Linked DNA regions of Homo sapiens: region 1 is linked to region 2. A link means that fine-mapping ties the variant in region 2 to the expression of a gene that starts in the linked region. Tissue or cell type: whole blood. Region 2 holds a variant in brackets; the other region holds the start of a gene. All regions are shown on one strand. Distances are from middle to middle.

Region 1 (5,603 bases), 120 kb before region 2:
AAATATGTGTGTCATGCATCAAGCTCAGCAGAAGTTCGGAGAAAGGGAAGATTATAAAATGAGATTAGGTAAGTAAGGCATTATCACTTTTCTTGGTGGAAGAAATACAAGAACCTTTGATTTTTATTATTTGTTTTTCTGTTATTCTTCCTGAATATTTAGCAAGGTGGTTTACAAGTCCTGATTTTCTCATATATTCCAGAAAGAAGTAGCTGAAGGGTGATTTTTGGTGCTTACTCAGCCCATTCATTAATTGGAAATAGGCTCCTCCTGGGGACAGTGTGGTGGTAATAGAAGTTTGAGTGTCAAGTAGGTCTAAAAAGAGCTAAAAAGGGGTGAGAACATTCACTCTGGAGTCAGACATCACTGAAGTGGAACCCTAGATTTATTGCTTATTAGGTGAGCAAACTTGAGCAAGTAAACATCTTTGAACCGTAATCGCCTATATATGATTTGAGAAAAATAATAAGTACCTTTCAGGGTTGCTGTGAGAATTGGAAAATATTCACCCACTAGCACATATTATTACAAAACATACACTGTTAGGATAGGCTTCACTGGAATTGGGACAGATTTCTGAGTACCCCACTGCAGCAGTGAGGTCTATAATCAGTTCTTTAAGGACTAAGAAATGGCATTGTCCTCTATTCTGAATTCAACCACATATATTAAACAGATATTCCTGGTCAATACCTGTGTATATTTTAGTCTTTTCCAAATTGTAATGTGGGACCCTAAAACCAGACATAGAGAAAAAGCCCAAGTTGCAAAATACTTTGCTATTTATGACTTGATTGCAATAAGATTTCAAGAGTTCACAAGGACAATATGGAATATTTACTTATCTCAGGTCTTCTGACAAATATTTGCTATGCTTCTGTCATACCATGAGCTTTCAGTAGGGTGGGAAGAGGAGATTGAAACTGGTGGCAACCATGAGAGACTGCATGGTGGTTTTAACCTTTCTTATATAAGCCATGTTTATAGTTAAATTTAAAACAACTTTATTAACAAACAGATAACAGATACTAAACTACTGATCTGAGCAGCCACTGAGTGTTCCATACACTGACTCTGCTACAAGTCCTGCAATCTTGCCTAATCATTGTTTTATCTCCAGCATAGGATCTGAGAGTTGTAGATTCTCCATAAATGTCTGCCGTCTTGCACTTCAGTAAAAATGCTGCACAAGGTGCCTGAAAATTGTGCCAGCCCTTCGGTATCAGGGTGGTATTGGTCTAAAATTGCCTCATGGTAGAATAGGACTGGCAAGCTCAGAGAAAGGTTAATTCCTCCCCCCCACATTTACTTATCTTCCTGTTATCTTTGAATATATAGTCAGATGGATTTCAAGTCCTAGCCTCTCTAAGATATTCTAGAAAGAATTAACTGAAAGGTGATTTTTGGTCCTTACTTAGCCCATTCATTAAGTGGAAGGGCACCCCTGAGAACAGTGTGGTGGTGACAGAAGTCATTGAAATGGGACATGTCTAAATGAAAAGATAAACTGAGAGGTACAGGGTTAGAAGCTGGAAACAACCGGGAAAATTGACCTCCACTGGAATATTTATCCAGAGTCTAGTTCCAAAGCTAAAATGCAAAGGTTCTTGGATTTCTTCTATTAAGAACAGTAATAATGTCTTGCTTGCCTAATCTCATTTGATAATTTCTCCTTTCTCCGGGCTTAATGCATCCCTCACATATTTATATGCTCTGGCTTATATATCTTTATTTCTTGTAAATTTAGTTTCTCAACACCTACATATGTTCCTTGAAGGTGATGGGTATGTCTTTTATTTCTTTTATGTCATCCTTTCTGCCCAGTGCTTAGCACAGTGCAAGGCACCTGTTGCCCAATAATTATAAACAATTGACTCACTTGTATTGTATAGAACATCCATCCTGATTCTAGGGAGACTCAAGGTGGCAAATACATTAGATTGTATAGAACTCTCTGAGGTCATTAAGATCTTGGCAAGTGTGAGGGTGGCACAAAAGTTCATCGATAATTTTCCTTAAAATGCATGTTCAACTGGGGCTATCATATTCCCTGCAAAGCTGGCTTAAAGCTAATAATACCACCATCTGCTTTTATGTAGCTCTTTGCAATTTGGAGCTTCATTAATAATACATTACTCATTTTAGTGTCACTAAACCCTGTACACTGGTCAGGGTAAAGCCCTTTTCTCAAATGAGAAAATTGGAGTGCACAGAGATAAAGGACTATATGCACATTTACAAAATTATTGAGTGGCAGAACCACTCACAAAAGGCAGAAGCAAGCCTTTTTTCATCCAAAGGTAGAGTACTTCCCATTCCTCTGCACTGCTTAGTAGACTATTTTTCAACATGGTAAAACTCTCTGGGACAAGAGGAACCTGAAGATGTGGCCCCTTAACAAGAGATGTGGAGAAATTAGGAAAGGACATGCTTTCTTAATTCAAATTACAATGTATCACAAATTCATTTATCCAAAATGGTTTTCTAACCTGGACTTTACCTGGGCAACATTCTAATAATCTCCTTCCAGAGTATGGGAAAAGAAACCGAATCTGAGAAGGGGATAAGAATACTCCCTATTCAGTCAAAAGAAAGGGTTAAAATGTGATTGTTTAAAGATTTAAGGTGGAGAAGAGAGTCTTGAATTATCTAAATGTAAAAAAACTAGGGTAAAAGGCTGGATTTCCTTCGGAATGTCTTTTTCAGCTTATAGGGGAAAAGTTAAAGGGTGTGTGTCTGGGGGGAAGGGTTAGGGAGGGGAAAATAGAACCCTTTTCTTCTAACAGCCTTTCTTAAAAAATAAAAGAAAAGAGAAACAAATGTTTGTTTCTGTTATTAAGCCCCATCTATGCTTAAAAGTTAAATGAAATAGGGAAAGTTCAGGCACAGAGACGCGTGTTCTGATTTGGTTGTTTACCATCAATCAGACCGTTGCTTGGCAGACACTGGATGGTTATGAGCCTGAACAAGCTGAAAAGGGGCAGGAAAAGAAGTGGAGGCAGCATTCTTCCTATTTAAAGCTGCATCGCTTGAAAAAAGTTTTCGCAGACTGTGCTGGAGCTGGTGCTGAAAAAGGGGGTTTGCAGAGGCTGCCCTGGGGCTGGTGCTGAAAGAAGAGCCCACAGCTGACTTCATGGTGCTACAATAACCTCAGAATCTACTTTTCACTCTCAGGAGAACCCACATGTCTAATATTTAGACATGATGGCAAACTGGGCGGAAGCAAGACCTCTCCTCATTCTTATTGTTTTATTAGGGCAATTTGTCTCAATAAAAGCCCAGGAAGAAGACGAGGATGGTGAGTTTGCCATTTGCTTTGCTTGTAGTGTTTATTGCACGGTTTGGGAAATAGGTGGAATGTTAAGCCTCAGGAAGAGCGTGAAGAGGAGGTTCTGGTTTGAAGTTTGAGAAGGGGGCTGACGGATTTGCACCTGGAAAACGACTTGAAAGACAATTGGGATGTTTGTAAATCCGGAGCTTCTAGATCCACCGTTGGAGAGAGTACACTACTAAATTTTTCTGGGAAAGCCTACAATAAGTCCTTTTGGCTGAGTGTGAGAGTGGGACGTTTAAAATAAGAAAAGAGTGAATGCTTAAAACGGAGCACTAAAGGCATTTTAGTTAGAGGAGCTCTGTTCTGTGGGCTGGAGTTTTCAGAGCAAGGAAAAGTCGCGGCAGAAGCTGGGTAGGGTGGAGTCTTTTTGTACTGAACTTCAGCTGCTTCATAAAATTCTTTGTTTAGTAAAACCTCTGCAGCAACTCTGATAGCTTTGATTTTTCTTTGTCTTTGGCTCCTCATTCTTTCCTCTTTAACAATTTAAACTTCTTTTTACCATTTTCATTTGTGAAAATGTGATCACTTTTGCTTACTGGGAGGCAGTCTCGTTTGTTTCTCCATGACAGAGGCTGATAGAAGCCAGATTTCTTAAACAGTGGTATTTTCCCACCCTACTGGCTTGATTAACAGGACAGTGGTGGTTCCCGGTTGGATGGCGGAAGGCAGGAAATCAGCATGTCTTGTATATATCTTATTTGGCATGGAATATTTGCATGGACATTACCCCTTAGACCCAAGCTTTTTTTTTTTTTTTTTTTTAAAGATAAATCTTGCCTGGTGACCACATTTTTTTCCTATGCAATTTTCATATGTTACAGTTGGGTTATATGGTATGGTTAAGCAAAAATGCATAGCTGTTGTAGTATATAAGAAAATATTTAAATTGATTCCTCTATTAAATCTTTAATCTTGAGGGTTGCAATTTCAAATACAGACATGTACTCCTTTAAAATAAGCCACTGTAGATTTTCATCAACTCAACCATGTAACATCAAACTCAAGCTTTTAAAACTTTGGACATTCATTAACCTTTTCTATTACTTTCATATATAGACACATACATACAGGTATATATGTATATATACTATGTATATATCTATATTTTTAGAACAAATATCTGCTTCTGTGTGTTTTTGGTTTCAAAAAGTTTATAAAATTAATCTAGAGATCAGAAGTTCTAAAAAGCTTAAAAAGTGAAAATACGAATTTGTAAATGAATATCCAACAATCTGTCAGGAGTCCCATAGAGGGGGCACTTTCTAAGACTTGGAGCTTTTTATGTTACGTTTTATGTTTTTAAAATATGAGGTAATTTATAAAAGGTGAAAACTTTTGAGTTTCTTTGTAATGGCATGAAAAGCATGTGTTGTTTGGAAGGGTGGCAAAAATAATTGAATAGAAAGTAGAAGAAAACAGGAGGAGAAAAACACAGAAAAATTACAATAGAAATTGAAAATTTGACTCTAGAAAGAACAGTTTACTCCCCTCCCCCACCAAAACAACCAACTTTAATTTAAAACCTTTAATACCACTTTCTTTGTTAATTTATGTTAAAATGAATAAAGTACTTTAATAAAGTATGGAAATAATTGAATATGTGAATAAATGAAAGGACTGTTTCACAAGGTACATGAAATAAGCCATATTTTAAAAGACATTCCCAAATAGTTATAATTACTCTGTAGGTGTTTTTGAAAAATGAGCAGATAATTTTTCTTAATAGTAATTGACATAAATGTAAGGAATGTGATGCTTGATGCAAAAAAGTCCCCAACTCCAATCCAACCCCAGTACCCCCCGCGAACAGTATAACCAAATAGCACAGAAAATGGAATTCCAAACATCAAATTTTACAGAATGTGTAATTGCTTGCATATGTGTTGTAAAAAATTCCAGTATTTTATTTCTCAACTTAAGAGAATATAAGTGATAAAAATTCAACAGCAAAAGAAAGTCGTCATTGCCCTAATCAAACATAATAGAGAAAATAATTCCAGAGTATAGTATATTCAGAGCTGCTTAACTTATATTGTACTTACTTACTATGCATATTTTGGTTTAAGTTGATATTGTATGGATACTTGGCAATACTTTCTTTTTCCTGTTCAGGCCTATCACAAGCTTAATAAAGGTGTCATAATTTAGAAACTCCATTTGATTTTGAGTTTGGGGAAGAGTAAGCTTAGATCGATGCTTTAAATTAAAGAAATATCTGAGGCACACATGAAAAGCAAGTACATTTTTCAAATTTTATCTATAACAGTCA
Region 2 (5,367 bases):
TTATAAAATATTTTATTTAAAATATTTAGATACTCAATTATTTACCTTCTCTCAATAATGCATCTTATAAAAATTTATGTAAGGCCGGGCATGGTGGCTCACGCCTGTAATCCCAGCACTTAGGGAGGCCAGGGTAGGTGGATTACCTGAGGTCAGGAGTTCAAGACCAGCCTGGCCAACATGGTGAAACCCTGTCTCTATTAAAAATACAAAAATTAGCCTGGCATGGTGGCATGTGCCTGTAATCCTAGCTATTCAGGAGGCTGAGGTAGGAGAATCACTTGAACCCGGGAGGCGGAGGTTGTAGTGAACCAAAATTACACCGTTGCACTCCAGCCTGGGTGGCAGAGCAAGACTCCATCTCCAAAAAAAAAAAAAAAATTATTTAAGGTATTTTTTAGGACATAAAAGGAATAATACTTATTCTTTGAGGTCTATTTTCATTTTAGGACTTTCAAATGAAGTGTTTATCCGAAATATTTTGGCATATTTTTTTGGGGGGGTGGGGCAGTTTAAATCTTTCTAAAATGTTAGCTTTGCTTTCTTTAGTCATTCTGTTTTTGAAGTCTTGATAAATAATTCTTAAGACATTCAGAAATAAACTATAATAAAAATATTATGTTTTTAGATTACATATACAAAAGTAATGGGTTTTCCTATATTCAATCCAATTTCCCCATAAGTTTACAATTGGCTCCAGACATTTAAGTTTGGATCAAAAAATAAATACATGTTATCAGTTACTGGCTTTAGAAGATATTTTCTCACCTCCAGAGACTTCAAACAATACCATTTGGTTACTATTAATACTAGTTTATTACCTGGCTAAAGAGAAAAACATGTGATTGGAAGAAATACAAATAAATATCAGTACTTCTAGTGGTTCACGTAGAGAGGAAGCAGACAAAGATCTGGTTATATTCACAATTATTTTCTCCTTCACAACTTAGGGTCTAGCTGGTGAAAGAGGAGAACAAGGACCTCCAGGCCCCACAGGTTTTCAGGTATGCACTAATTCGGTTTTCCATTTCATCTTCCATTAACTAAAATGCTTTTTTTTTTTAAAAAAAAAGATATGGTCAGAAGATTTGAAATTCTACAATTTTCAAAAAGTCATCCCTCTTTTAGTAGATAGTATAGACATTTGGATAAAATCGAACATTTTTGTTCAAAGTAAAGGAATGGGCTTCTAAAAAAACTGATCAAACCTGCAAATTATGAACAAAACAAATAAAAAATAACAAAAAAGTAATAAAAAGATATCAGGAATAAAATGTTTCTGATAGCTCAACAAAGTTTATGAAACCATTTTAAGGCTGATTTTGTTTTATCGGCACAGTGACTAGAATTTTTTATTGAACAAAGTTTCATAATTTATCTACATATATCAGTATGTACATTATTTAATAGGAGGAAGATCATAATTTGTAAAAAAAACTTTCTGGACTGACTTTAAATAATATTCTAGCAGTCTAAAATATTGTTCACAGAGCCATAAAAACTCTATAAATATGAAGAAGCTCCTGTTACATTATCTCTTTTTTTGCTAAGTGGTGTGCAGATGAAAATACAATCCTATAAATTGACTAGCTGTTGTGTTTTATTGGTAGTCTTTTTTTAATGCTTCTGAACAATATTTTTTACTTAAAATGTCTGAACAATATATTTTCATTGAAAATATAGTCTTGGAGACCCCATGAATTGTAAAAGGTAAACTGTTAACACTGGTAGCCTGTTAAACTTACACAGATTCACAATTTTATTTTCTTACTTTTGTTTTAGGGGCTTCCTGGTCCTCCAGGGCCTCCTGGAGAAGGTGGAAAACCAGGTGATCAAGTAAGTGTTTAAATAATAATAATGGCAACACTATACATTGCTGGCTCAATTATCACTTTTTATGTGTGAGGCTCTGTTGTGCTTTCCTTTACATACATTATCTCTTTGAGTTCTCAAAGCAGCCCTATGTACTAGGTACTATCATTATCTCCATTTTGTAGATGAGGAAAATGGGGCATACAGATGTTAGATAACTTTCCCAAAGTCACACAGTTAATAGATTTGAACCCAGGTCATCTGCTTCCCAAGATGTGTTCTTAACCACTTTATATAAACAGTTATGGACAAATACTAACAATTTTATTCTGTCGTTTTCCTGGCTCATAGATTTATTTATTTTTCTTTGAATGATTCATTTGTTCATTTAATCATTTAATAAATATTTGCTGAACACTCTGTGTGCTTGCCTCTACAAAGCACTGGCCTGAACCAGCTGAACAAAATGGATTTGGACCTTG[C/T]TGTCCTTACAGTATAGTAGGATTCAGAGAGTATAGGACAATTACAATAATAGCATGCTCTAAATGCTATAATAAGGGAGGTACTATGTTTATGGAAACAAAAAAGATGCACCTAAATAAGACTTGGGGGTTTTAGGAAAGGTTTTCCAGACAAAGTAATATCTTTTATGAGATCTGAGAGATGAATGATGATAATGATGAAGGAGGGAAGATAGGAAAAACCTCCAGGAAATGAGACAAGCTTACAAATCAGAGTGGGTAATGTAATTTGGGGAAAATAGAAAGGGGGCTGCAGGGTGACTCAGGGGCCTGATTATGGAGGGCTTTAATTTGATTCTAATTTGTTCTTCATCATTAGAGTAATGGGAAGCTAAGGAAGAGTTTTTAGGCTGGGCACAGTGGCTCACACCTGTAATCCCAGCACTTTGGGAGACTGAGGCAGGTGAATCACTTGGCATCAGGAGTTCGAGACCAGCCTGGCCAACCGTCTGTACTAAAAATACAAAAATTACCTGGGCATGGTGGCACATGCCTGTATTCCCAGCTACTTGGGAGGCTGAGGCAGGAGAATCACTTTAATCCAGGAGGTGGAGGTTGCAGTGAGCCAAGATCATGCCACCATTGTACTCCAGCCTGGGTGATAGAGCGAGACAACGTCTCAAAAAAAAAAAAAAAAAAAAAAAAAACCAGAAAAGAAAAAAGAAGGGTTTTTAAGGAAGGAGTAATATGATAAGATTAGGGAGATCAGGCCACAGTGAGGACAGTCCATTTCGGAGAATAAGATTGGAGGCCTATTTGATAAAGTTATCTTTATCAAAGAAAGAAATTTCAAATTGACAAACTTTCTTTTATGTAAGAACAAACAAACTTTTAATTTAGACATGACTGCACTGGTTTGAATGCACAATACCTAGTAGAGTGCTTTGTCCATATTATAGGCTCAAGAAAGATTTACTTAATTGAGTAGAATTGGATTGGTTCTATTTAAAAGACCAACTCTTTAGCCCTTTTTATATAACTTTTCTTTATTTAAACTTTTTCATCTTCCATTAGTTTAAAAAAAGACATTTAGCATGTATTTTGTTGCCTCTAAAAAACTAATGCTCTATCTTTGTGAAATAGTACTTTGCATGTTCTCATTGCCAAAAATCAAACATTCAGGTATAATACAAAGTTTTTTGGAAAAATGTTTTCATCTAAAACATGTAATATTCCCTCATTTATAAAAATATACGTACTTTTCTTTCTTTAAATTGTTGGCTTATGCAGCCTTCTAATGGCACATTAATAGAAACTAGGTGTATGAACTGGAAAGTTTTCTGATAAATGCCTAAACTCAAAGCTCTTGTTCCATTAAAAAAAAAAAATGTGTTTATAGGGTGTTCCTGGAGATCCCGGAGCAGTTGGCCCGTTAGGACCTAGAGTAAGTATTTTAATCTTCATGATTAATGTTGTTTCCCACTGGCTTCAGTTTTAAAAGGTGTCTTTTAAAATCTTAAACTGGGATTTATTTTAACCTATAAATTCTTTGACTGGATAAAAATTAATTTTATGAGAAATATTTTGTGCTATGAAACTAGCATATCCTTACTTCAAATTTATTTCTTATCACTAAATTAGAAAATTGAGATTTAGTAATGTCTCATTTCTGAATTTTTCCGCAGTAGAAGCCATTTCTCAGAAACATTTTGACCTATTTTTAGATCAAGTATTGAGATTATTTGACATCCCAATTTTGTGCTAGGGAGAACGAGGAAATCCTGGGGAAAGAGGAGAACCTGGGATAACTGGACTCCCTGGTGAGAAGGGAATGGCTGGAGGACATGGTCCTGATGGCCCAAAAGTAAGTGTCATAGTGATCTCAGTGTTTTAAAATGCTTTAAAATTACTGCTTAATAAACGCATGATGGTGTGAGAATGCATTTGTCTTGTTTTTGAAAGATAATTTGATTATATCATTTTCTTCTTCCACAAATATTTAATGAGCGCTTACTAGGCTTTTTCCTTGCAACTAAAGTGTCAGCTAAAAAGAAGACTCTCTTCTTTGATGGGGATTGTAGTTTAGTGCACATGGTGATAGACTTCCATATACAAACACATTTCTAATGTTTATGTACATTTTATTAGTGGCTTCTATGAATAAACAGAGGAAAGAAATAGAAAATTACATAATTTATTAGGAGGCTTTTCTAATAATATGCTCCATTTTCCTTGTCTCAGGTTTCACAATTCTGCTTACTACATATGTGAAAATATGGAACTTTTAAAATCTGAAAATATAATGCATCATAAGGCAGAAATGTGTGCCATTTAGTGATTGGTAGAAAATAATGTGGCCAACTTCAGTATAAACAATTGAAGTAGAATTTTTCATGGTCATGTGACATGAGACCCCTTATTATTTTCAGGGTTTAGAGTGATTGATGCAGTCTACTACAATTTAGACACTATATTAGCCTGAAAACCAGGTTAATATCAAATATCAGTTTCATTAAAGAGAGAATGAAATATTTCTCTAAATGTAATGTCTTTCTTTCTTAATATATTCCATTATGTTGCCAACAGAGGGAAAAAAAGGCAACTCTATCCTTTTTATTTGAAATAGCGTTCAATTGCCTCTTAAGAGAAAAGTTAAAAATATAAAGCAGCAATCAAAAACAAAATCTGGTTTTTTTAATTTCAAAATATCAACTCACTCAGAGACAACTTTCTCAGATGAAAAATATAAGCACTAAGTTGAACTACATGAAATTGCTGACAACTACTTTTGACCCACTAAAAAGCAATTTCATTAGTTTAATCTTAATATTATTGGTATGGTCACTTAATGTTGGTTCATTTTAGGGCAGTCCAGGTCCATCTGGGACCCCTGGAGATACAGGCCCACCAGGTCTTCAAGGTATGCCGGGAGAAAGAGGAATTGCAGGAACTCCTGGCCCCAAGGGTGACAGAGTAAGTCCTTTTTTTTTTTTTTTTTTTTTCAGTTCATTTATTCAGACTTTCTGCTGAAAATGAAATGATTTCTTGAGCAGGCTTTTATTTCTACCATCCTGAGTCACTAGTCATTCATTTT

What was found. PIP is the estimated chance that this variant, and not a neighbour inherited with it, causes the effect.
Region 1: COL5A2 starts here. The variant in region 2 is fine-mapped to the expression of COL5A2 in whole blood (TOPMed, PIP above 0.99).

The regions. Positions count from the first base shown.
Region 1 is chr2:189,177,203-189,182,805 of GRCh38, reverse strand. It overlaps COL5A2 (collagen type V alpha 2 chain), which reads left to right and starts at 3,045. Exons shown (of 54, transcript NM_000393.5): 1 at 3,045-3,298. The coding sequence starts at 3,202.
Region 2 is chr2:189,057,199-189,062,565 of GRCh38, reverse strand. COL5A2 (collagen type V alpha 2 chain) reads left to right here. Exons shown (of 54, transcript NM_000393.5): 30 at 951-1,004; 31 at 1,783-1,836; 32 at 3,673-3,717; 33 at 4,039-4,137; 34 at 5,139-5,246. Among named protein-coding and RNA genes, the nearest start is that of MIR3606, 64 kb to the right of the region's middle. The variant C/T (reference allele first, on the strand shown) is at 2,295.